Linked DNA regions of Homo sapiens: region 2 is linked to region 1. A link means that fine-mapping ties the variant in region 1 to the expression of a gene that starts in the linked region. Tissue or cell type: lung. Region 1 holds a variant in brackets; the other region holds the start of a gene. All regions are shown on one strand. Distances are between the middles of the regions.

Region 1 (5,261 bases):
TTTAATTTTTGTGTAGAAGTAAATTTTATTCGCTTCTCAGACCTCTAAGAACTACCTAATGGTCAAAGTTTTTGGCAAACTGGAAAATTACTTTTTGTGATCTAAAAGATAAAATCTAGCTTAGATAACTTGAATAATTAATTTGATTCACGTATCTTACACAAAATATTTGATATATCTGAGGAATGGCTGGAGTTGCTATGAAATAAAATAATTTTAAGTTAACGTGTTAAATTATACAAGTTAACATTACCAGAATAATTCAAGAAAAGTGGAACTTAGTATGCTTTACATCTTGGAGATCACAATGATGAACAGGTACTGAACAGGAACACTGAATTATAGATGTTACCAAAAAAAATCATGTTTCTAACTAGAATTTAAAATCACACTGGGCCGGGCGCGGTGGCTGATGCCTGTAATCCCAGCACTTTGGGAGGCTGAGGCAGGCAGATCACAAGGTCAGGAGTTCAAGACCAACGTGGCCAACATGGTGAAACCCCATCTCTACTAAAAATACAAAAATTAGCCAGGCGTGATGGCCCACGCCTGTAGTCCCAGCTACTCAGGAGACCAAGGCAGGAGAATCGCTTGAACCCGGGCGGCAGAGGTTGTGGTGAGCTGAGATCGTACCACTGCACTCCAGCCTGGGCAACAGAGCAAGACTGTCTCAAACAACAACAACAAAAATCACACTGAAAAAAAAAGCTGCTTCAGCTAATCAGATTGTATTTTTTATTCTTAAAAACAAAATTATAATTTGCCTTTGAAAGTTTAAAAAACAGAAACAGGCAGAGTACAGTGACTCATGCCTGTAATTCCAGCACGGCAGGAGGCTCAGGCAGGCAGATCACTTGAGGTCAGGAGTTCGAGACCAGCCTGGTCAACATGGCAAAACCCCATCTCTACTGAAAAAAAAAAAATCAGCCGGGCATGGTGGTGCACTCCTGTAGTCCCAGCTACTCAGGAGGCTGAAGCAGGAGAATCACTTGAAACTGGGAGGGAGAGGTTGCAGTGAGCACTCAAGCCTGGGCAAGAGTAAGACTACGTCTCAAAAATAGAAAAAAACAGTATAGAACCTTTATACCCCCCCCCATCAACAAATATTAGTCTGTATTTTTTCATTTTGTTTAAGATATATTTTCTCATAGCTGAGTTTTTAATTGGTAGTTACTTTAGCTATGTATTCCAGATGATATATTTTGATTCTTTCAGCTATTCTTAAAAAATAAAACCAGTGATTTTACATTTGCTACAAAGTGAAGTTTTAAATGATAGCAAATATCAAGAATCAACATTTGTTAAACTACAAAACAAAAAGACCTGGAGGAAACTAGTAAAATGTTCTGCTTTAAGAAAGCCAATAGGGCCGGGCGTGGTGGCTCACGTCTGTAATCCAGCACTTTGGGAGGTTGAGGCGGGTGGATCACCTGAGGTCGGGAGTTCAAGACCAGCCTGACCAACATGGAGAAACCCCCATCTCTACTAAAAATACAAAATTAGCCGAGCGTGGTGATGCATGCCTGTAATCTCGGCTACTCAGGAGGCTGAGGCAGGAGAATCGCTTGAACCCGGGAGGCAGAGGTTGCGGTGAGCCGAGATTGCTCCATTGCACTCCAGCCTGGGCAACAAGAGTGAAACGCTGTCTCAAAAAAAAAAAAAAAAAAAAAAAAAAAGGCAATAAAGGGAAGTGATTGGGAAGAGTTTGGCCTCCAGAGCCAGATTGAGTTCAAAGTCCTGTTTCACCCACTTACCATGTGTCTTTGGTCTACTTAACCTCTCTGTACTGCAATTTCTTCACATTGAATAATATATAATAGTTAATAGTTTAAATGGTTAATCATGTAACATCAATTTAGAAGAACACTTGACAGGTAGTAAGTGCTTCATGTTCGTTACTATTTTTTTTAATCCAGTTTTAAAAAACTGGCTGGGCGCGGTGGCTCATGCCTGTAATCCAGGCACTTTGGGAGGCCGAGGTGGGTGGATTAACTGAGGTCGGGAGTTTGAGACCAGTCTGACCAACATGGAGAAACCCCGTCTTTACTAAAAATACAAAATTAGCCGGGCATGGTGGCGCATGCCTGTAATCCCAGCTACTCCAGAGGCTGAGGCAGGAGAATTGCTTGAACCCGGGAGGTAGAGATTGCGGTGAGCCGAGATTGCACCATTGCACTCCAGCCTGGGCAACAAGAGCAAAACTCCGTCTCAAAAAAAAAAAAAAAAAAAAAAAAACTAATTTAGCCAGGTGTGGTAGCTCACACCTATAATCCCAGCACTTTGAGAGGCTCAGATAGGAGAACTGCTTGAACCCAGGTGTTCAAGACCAACCTGGGCCACATAAAACATTAAAAAAATTAGCTGGGCATGGTACCACACGTGCCTGTAGTAACAGCTTCTTGGGAGGCTGAGGTGGGAGGACTGCCTGTGCCTGAGGAGGTGGAGGCTGCAGTGAGGCATGATGGCCCCACTACACTCCAGCCTGGGCTGCAGAGTGAGACCCGGTCTTAAAAAGCGAATTTACTCCACTTGAATGAGTTAATTTCTCTTAGGTTCTACCATAATGGTTCTTTTGTTTGTTTGTTTTTGTTTTTGAGACGGAGTCTCGCTCTGTGGCCCAGGCTGGAGTTCAGCGGCGCAGTCTCGGCTCACTGCAACCTCCACCTCATGGGTTCAAGTGATTCTCCTGCCTCAGCCTCCTGAGTGGCTGGGACTACAGGCGCCTGCCACCACACCCAGCTGATTTTTGTATTTTTAGTAGGAACAGGGTTTCACCGTGTTAGCCAGGATGGTCTCGATCTCCTGACGTTGTGATCTGCCTGCCTCGGCCTCCCAAAGTGCTGGGATTACAGGCGTGAGCCACCGTGCCCGGCCAACCATAATGGTTCTTAAACCAGAATGTCCAAGGATCAGTTGGTAAGTTTAAAGTACAGATTCCTGTGCCCTACCTGCACAGATTCTGATTCAACTCTCCTGGTGTTGGATCCAGTCATCTCTGTTTTAACAGGCATGCAACATGATTCTGATCCAAATGGTCTACAGAATATGTTTTGAGAAACACTGCTCTGGGTTTCTCTCAGCTAATAACATTAGGCATATGAATGAAGTTAATTACAAGAGTGAAATATGATGTGGCATTA[C/A]CATGGGACTACTTCTTGAGAATCTTGAAAACAGTAGGCCTCCCCTCACCCCACCCCAGAACCATAGCACAGTCCTAATCACATTTTGCATATGACAGTGGGTTCCTGGACTCCCTGAAGCCAGGAGTCCATAGACCTCAGTTACAAAACTTTATGCTAGCCTGGGTGTGGTGGCTCACGCCTGTAATCCCAGCACTTTGGGAGGCCGAGGAGGGCAGATCACGAAATCAGGAGATCAAGACCATCCTGGCCAACATGGTGAAACCCCACCTCTACTAAAAATACAGAAATTAGCTGGGCGTGGTGGTGCACTCCTGTAATCTCAGCTACTCAGGAGGTTGAGGCAGGAGAATCACTTGAACCCGGGAGGCAGAGGTTGCAGTGAGCCGAGATCGTGCCACTGCACTCCAGCCTGGCGACAGAGTGAGACTCCATCTGAAAAAATAAGAAAACTTAATGCTAGAAGGGCTGTACCTTTTACCCTTGTGCATTGTTTTATATGGCCTGTTTTAATACATATAATAGACAATTTTGCCATGGTGGGGTGAGGATTATTCAAATTAAGTAGATGGCAGAATTTAATTAGCACCTAAAATTTTTTCACATTTATTAAATGACCTCTTTTAGACATACTTATATTTCTATTCACACCACACTTGAACATACATAAAAAGGGAAATATAAATGTAAGCTAAATAAGTTATTCCTTAAGCTTCTTATTCAGTCCAGTTTTTTTGAATTGCTTTTATTCGGATACCTGATGGTCACAGATAGAAAAAAAGAATTTTGATGTGATCTTAAGAGGAAAGGGTCTTAAAAATAAGTGAGGCTGGGCGTAGTAGCTCACGCCTGTAAACTCAGAATTTTAGGAGGCCAAGGTGGGCAAATCACTTGAGCACATGAGTTCGAGACCAGCTTGGGCAACAGGGTGAAACTCCATCTCTACTAAAAATACAAAAATTAGCTGGGCATGGTGGTGTGCGCCTGTGGTCCCAGCTAGTGGTGAGGCTGAGGTGGGAGGATCACTTGAGCCTGGGAGGTCAAGGCTGCAGTGAGCCATGATTGTGCCACTACCTGGGTGACAGTGAGGCCATGTCTCAAAAAAATAAAAAATAAGTGAGAGGGACTGATAACTACTTAGGAATAGTACAAGGAACAAATAGTACAAAAAATAAATCTTTTATGCATTGTAAAAAGAGGAAAAAACGATGCTAAATTTGGGAAGAGGCATAAATTCATTACAATTAAAACAATTAACTGCTTAAATAGGGTACTATGAGACCTCAAAAATGGCATGTACCTTTCTACATGGGGAGAGCAGAAAAAGTATCACAGCTTTGTTTGAGTAGAGTTTGGGAGAGGAAGAACGGGTACCGCAATATGAGTAATGGCAAACATGTTAAAGCTTAGTCAAAGGCAACAAGGGGTAAGACAAGATAGGAGGATAATATTGGAAAGATAGGAAGGGGTTAGATCATGAAAGACCTTACTAGGTAGTTAATGCATTTAGATTGTATCCCACACATAAAGAAGTGAACCCAGGTTTTTAAGAAATGTTGTGGCATAATTAGGTGAACGTTCAGAAAAGTAAATTACTCATTCTAGCTGCTGTAGAGCAGGGCAACTGGAATAGATTAAAACCAGAGGCAGGGAAACCAATGAGGAGTCCTTTGCAATAATAACTGGCAAGAAAAGATGAAGCTTTAACGCAGAGGACAGGCCGGGCACAGTAACTCACGCCTGTAATCCCAGCACTTTGGGAGGCCATGGCAGGTGGATCATTTGAGGTCAGGAGTTCAAGACCAGCCTGACCCGTATGATGAAACCCCATCTCCATTAAAAATACAAAAATTAGCCGGACATGGTGGTGCACGCCTGTAATCCCAGCTACTCTGGAGGCTGAGGCAGGAGAATTGCTTTAACCCAGAAGGTGGAGGTTGCAGTGAGCCGAGATCACACTACTGCACTCCAGCCTGGGCAACAAGAGCAAAGCTCTGTCTCAAAAAAAAAAAAAGAAGGAGAAGAAGAACCAGAAAGAGAGAGCATGAGAATTACTGGATACATTCATAGAAATCTTCAGCAACATCATTATTATCATTATTATTATTTTGAGATGAAGTC
Region 2 (5,000 bases), 300 kb after region 1:
CCACTGCGTCCAGCCAGTTCCAAAGTTTAGAATTTCTTTTCTAAAAATCTTTTCTAAAAGTTTTAAATTCTGAAACATCTGGCTGCCAGGGTTTTAGATAAGAGATTGTGGACCAAAAATCAAGATGTTTTGAAAAGTGCTTTTCTCTGTTCTCTCCTTGTGTTACCCCCAGGTCATGTAGGAAAATGGGAAATTATGCTGGACTTAATGCCAAAAAAGCTAGATTCTTTGCTTCCCCCATTTACTTTGTTGTTGTTAGTTGAGACAGGATCTCACTGGAGTACAGTGGCATGATCTTGGCTCACTGCAGCCTTGACTCCCTGGCTTCGGTAATTCTCCCACCTCAGCCTCCCAAATAGTTGGGACTACAGGCGCCTGGCTAATTTTTCTATTTTTTGTAGAGACAAGAGTTTTGCCATGTTGCCCAGGCTAGTCTCAAACTCCTGGGCTCAAGCGATTCACCTGCCTCGGCCTCCCACATTTGTATTTTTCAAAGTATACTCTTAAGCTCAGATGAATTCAAGTTTTTGCAGCCAGAAACTGGTAGAACTGGTGTTTGAAATCTTTCATTTTCCAGTGCTTAAACTCTTCATCATTGTAAGATACTTCTTGTGTGGGTCTTTTTTGTGGAAACCACACTTGGAGATTTCTACTCCTTAACCCCAAGCCTCTTTATGACATCCATCCAGGACCAGCTCTGCTTTCCTGTTGAAGGTCTCAAGAGACTTGCCTTCCTCCTCTCGGTAGCTGCCAGTACTCTTACCATTTCATGAGTTTTCCCCCAAGCTTGGCTGTGAAATGTGATACCTATTAGCTTCCGCAGCACCTTTCTCCCAACTTCCTTGCTATACCTGATGACAACTCTTCAGGCCTCTTATATTCCTAGGATCTTGCTATTAATCACTATAGGGATAAGTAAAAGTAATATATACAAAATAATTGCATAACAGAATAATATAGGGCAGTTACATAGAATGATTCTTGCTGTTTAATCCTGGAAAATGTGATCCCCGAGGATTCACATTTTAATTTCTGCTCTTTATTTCTGAGGATGGAGTCACCGTTTTCCCCTTCTGGCTACACATTTAGATGCATTTCAGGTCTGATGATAGTTGCAATGTAAAAAAGAATAGCAAGGCCTTTGGTTTCTGTAGACAATTTGGACCAGATAACTTCCAGACTGGGTAATATCCGGTTTATTAGTGTTACTGGATGGGAAGTCTTGACTGAGTTGTCTGGGTTTTTGGCGTGTTGAACAAAGAATTGAACAAAACGTAGAAACAAAGCAACAAAAGAAGCAACGAAAGACAAAACAACAAAAGAACGAAGTAACAAAAGCACAAATTTATTGAAGCGAACCAAGTGCTTCAAGAGTCCCAATTGCAGTGTTCTTAAGGGTTACTAGGCTAAAAGAATTTGGTAAATCCCTAGGTGCCCTTTACAGTCGTCCAATTGGTTGCACCCTATGAAGGATTGGCCTGCGACCAATCAGAGGCTGAAATGGAGATGGCCGAGGACAATCAGAGGCGATGTGGAAACTTCTGTCTTGTAATCACAGGAGTGAAGGTGTGGCCTGTATGCTGCCTAGTCTTGCCTAGAAATTGCTGCACCTGCTGTTCTTTTGCTTATGCCTTAACCCTTGGTTACCCTAATTCCCTATTCTCTTGCCTCATTAGGTCTTTACCCTGACTAAAAATGCACTCATCTAGCTGGGACAAATCCTACACTGCATTTGTCCCATCTAGATGAGTATTCTAGCAGAGTACATGGCACATGAGTAGGCATTCAAAAATTCAACATACAGTACATTTTGTTACCTATGTGCCAGGTGTCGGGCAGGCTGAGTTAACAGCTGAACAGAAACCTACCTACCCAACGTGCTAACTTCTATACAGCATGGTCGTGCATCCAAATCAAATGGAAAGCGGTATGGGAGATCTGGAAAGGCCTCCTGTGGGTGGCATCTGACTACCTAAATTCCCATCCCAGTTTCACTTACTGACTTTGACACTTGGAACAAGCAGCCTCTCAGTGCCTGTTTTCCCACTGGCAGGTAAATGGGCTAATGACGGTATTTCTGGCACTAGACTTCGTTAATTAATGAAAAGCACATAGAAGAAAACAGCCTGGCTCTCTAAGTGGGCAGTGCGATTCCCAAGGACGGCACTTCGCCTGATAGTCTTCCTCTAGGCTGAGAAGCCAGAGTAAATCCATTTGATTTTCCTACCACACAGTGCCTTCTCCCCAGATGAGTTCAAAGCTTTAAGTCTATCCAGTTCTGTCCAGACGCGTCTGTTCATCTCCAACAGGCCCACTAGAGAGGCGGGTTTTCCAAAGCCTGGCACGGCCCACTGCAGGTGACGCCCTCTGCCCTCCAGCGCCCTCAGGCCTCTGGGGTCCACCCTTCCTCCCCACCCGACTCCGGAACCTCTTCCCGCGCCCTGCCCGGGCGCCTGGCTGCTTGGGGTAGAGGCCTTCCGCCACACGCGCGGCCCCGCCCCGGCCTTCACGTGACCTGGCGTGCGGAGCGCGCACGCGGGAACCCGCGCTGGAGGCGGGCGAGGGCCGAGGGGCAGCTAGGGAGCGCGGCTTGAGGAGGGCGGGGCCGCCCCGCAGGCCCGCCAGTGTCCTCAGCTGCCTCCGCGCGCCAAAGTCAAACCCCGACACCCGCCGGCGGGCCGGTGAGCTCACTAGCTGACCCGGCAGGTCAGGATCTGGCTTAGCGGCGCCGCGAGCTCCAGTGCGCGCACCCGTGGCCGCCTCCCAGCCCTCTTTGCCGGACGAGCTCTGGGCCGCCACAAGACTAAGGAATGGCCACCCCGCCCAAGAGAAGCTGCCCGTCTTTCTCAGCCAGCTCTGAGGGGACCCGCATCAAGAAAATCTCCATCGAAGGGAACATCGGTAAGGAGCCTCCGGAAATGTGGGACGCAAGGCTGGGGTGTCGCGGCAGTGGCTGAAGCTTCCCTTCGCCGCATCTCTCTGCAGCAACTCGGTGAGGGCTTTCCCTCCAGCCTGGCGGTGTGGACGCGGCCTCGGCTTCCTTTCCCACCCAGAGCATCCTTCCCTTACCTCCCGCTCCACGGGGTGACTGCGGTCCCCGGGGTCAGACTGGGCGCCAGGCCTGCGGTCTCTGTGAGGCGCGCTTTGAACCTCTGCTCCCTCTTTGTTGGGAACTCGCAAAGGGAAGCGGGGGAAGGGTATTAGATTTCTTGAGGTGTAACTTACATTAAATTCACCCTTTTTAGGTGTACTCTTCTATGAGGTTTGACAAACATTATGCCTTTTGCTATCACCATGATCGAGATACAGAACATTTTCATCACCTTAGAAAGTTCCTACCTGCTCCTTTGTATTCAGCCCCCTCCACCCTTCCTATTCCCTGGCACCCACTGATTTGATTTCTATCCCTGCAAGTGTTGCCTTTTCCAGAATGCCATATAAATGGAATCATAGGCTATATCGCCTTTTGTGTCTGGCGTCTTTCATTTAGCATAATGCTTTTGAAATTCATTCATGTTACTTGTGTCTGTAGTTTGTTTCTTTTTATTGCTGAGTAGTATTCCATTGCATGGATGTACCATCGTTTATCCATTTTCTAGTTGTGGACCTCAGGGTTGTTTACAGTTTTTTAGCTATATTATTAGCGAAGCATTGTTTTAGCTATATTATTAACGAAACTCGAAACATTCGAGTACAAGCAAAGAGGTCTTTAATGATCTTAATAGCATGGAGTTCCTCACCCCTTACTCCACATCCAAGTAAACATTGGATTATGATTCAAAGACCACTAACGTTTCTGTTAACTCAGATGGGGGGCAGACTAGGCCATGCCTGTCACTTTGCAAGATACACACCAACGTCCGATTCTTCTGTATCTCCAACCACAGGAAACCTACCCCTGAAACTTCCTGTTTTGATAGATTTAAAAAAAAATTTTTTTAGCTCCAGGTTGGGTGCTGGTCATTCATGCATACAGCAAATTTTTTAAAATTCTTACCACATTCAAAGCACTGTACCTTCTTGAAAAAGGCCAGGCAAGCAGATGCTTTAAGCATTCAAATGAATAGAAAAACTGCATTCTCAAAGAGGACTTCTTATTTCATTGCTCCAGAATTAAAGCACCAGTAGAAAGACCATATGATATAATTAGCAATGTAAGTTATTTGAGGGTGCATGTTTACTAGTATGGAATCTCTGACAGCTGCTTACTGAATAAAGAAGACCATATATAAAGACAGGAGAAAGTGGCTGAACAAAGCCATCTGAAAAGTAAATTTGAGGCAGGGCATGGAGGCTCATACTTGTAATCCCAGGATTTGGGGAGGCTTAGGCAAGAGGATCACTTGAGTCCAGGAGTTCCAGATCAGCCTGGGCAACATAGTGAGAACTCATCTCCACAAAAAAATTAAAAAATTAGTTGCATGTGTTGGTGTGCCTCCAGCTACTCAGGAGGCTGAGGCAGGAGGATTGCTTGAGCCCAAAGATCAAGGCCACAGTGAGCCATGATCACACTACTGCACTCTAGCCTGGGTGACAGAGCAAGACTCTGTTAAAAACACAGAAACAAAACAGTAAAGTTGAATGAATAACCCCTCGGATCAATACCACAATACATTCATCCCCTTTCCCTCTCTCCAATCCAGTTAGGTAGCATCATATTTAGAAATATTTCCTCAAAGCATCTTTAATCTTTTCAGCAGCTGAAATAATTTCCTAATATATCATCCCATCTCCAGTTTCTCTTAACTACTTCTGCAACGGTCTTTTTGTATGCAAATGTCATGTGTTATCCCCTGCTTAAAATTCTTCACTGATTTTGCCTTTACCTACACTGAAAGTAGTTGTGAACTGATAGCCTGCAATTGCACAATATTGGCCTGCACAGGTTGAAAAAAAATTTTACTGGCCAGTGGCTCAAGCTTGTAATCCCAGTGCTTTGGGAGGCTGAGGCAGGAGGATTGCTTGAGGCCAGGAGTTTGAGACTAGCATGGCAACATAGT

Alleles and levels. Alleles are on the strand shown, and positions count from the first base shown. SD is a standard deviation of normalised expression in the study named.
For the expression in lung of the gene that starts at base 2,624 in region 2, A is the high allele of the variant in region 1 and C is the other (moderate effect, 0.59 SD a copy in GTEx).

Evidence for each region. PIP is the estimated chance that this variant, and not a neighbour inherited with it, causes the effect.
Region 2: DCK starts here. The variant in region 1 is fine-mapped to the expression of DCK in lung (GTEx, PIP 0.95).

Annotation. Positions count from the first base shown.
Region 1 is chr4:70,693,096-70,698,356 of GRCh38, forward strand. No RefSeq gene overlaps it. Among named protein-coding and RNA genes, the nearest start is that of UTP3, 7.2 kb to the left of the region's middle. The variant C/A (reference allele first, on the strand shown) is at 3,141.
Region 2 is chr4:70,991,026-70,996,025 of GRCh38, forward strand. DCK (deoxycytidine kinase) reads left to right here and starts at 2,624. Exons shown (of 7, transcript NM_000788.3): 1 at 2,624-2,901. The coding sequence starts at 2,811. RefSeq lists a silencer at 2,360-2,699 and an enhancer at 2,870-3,049.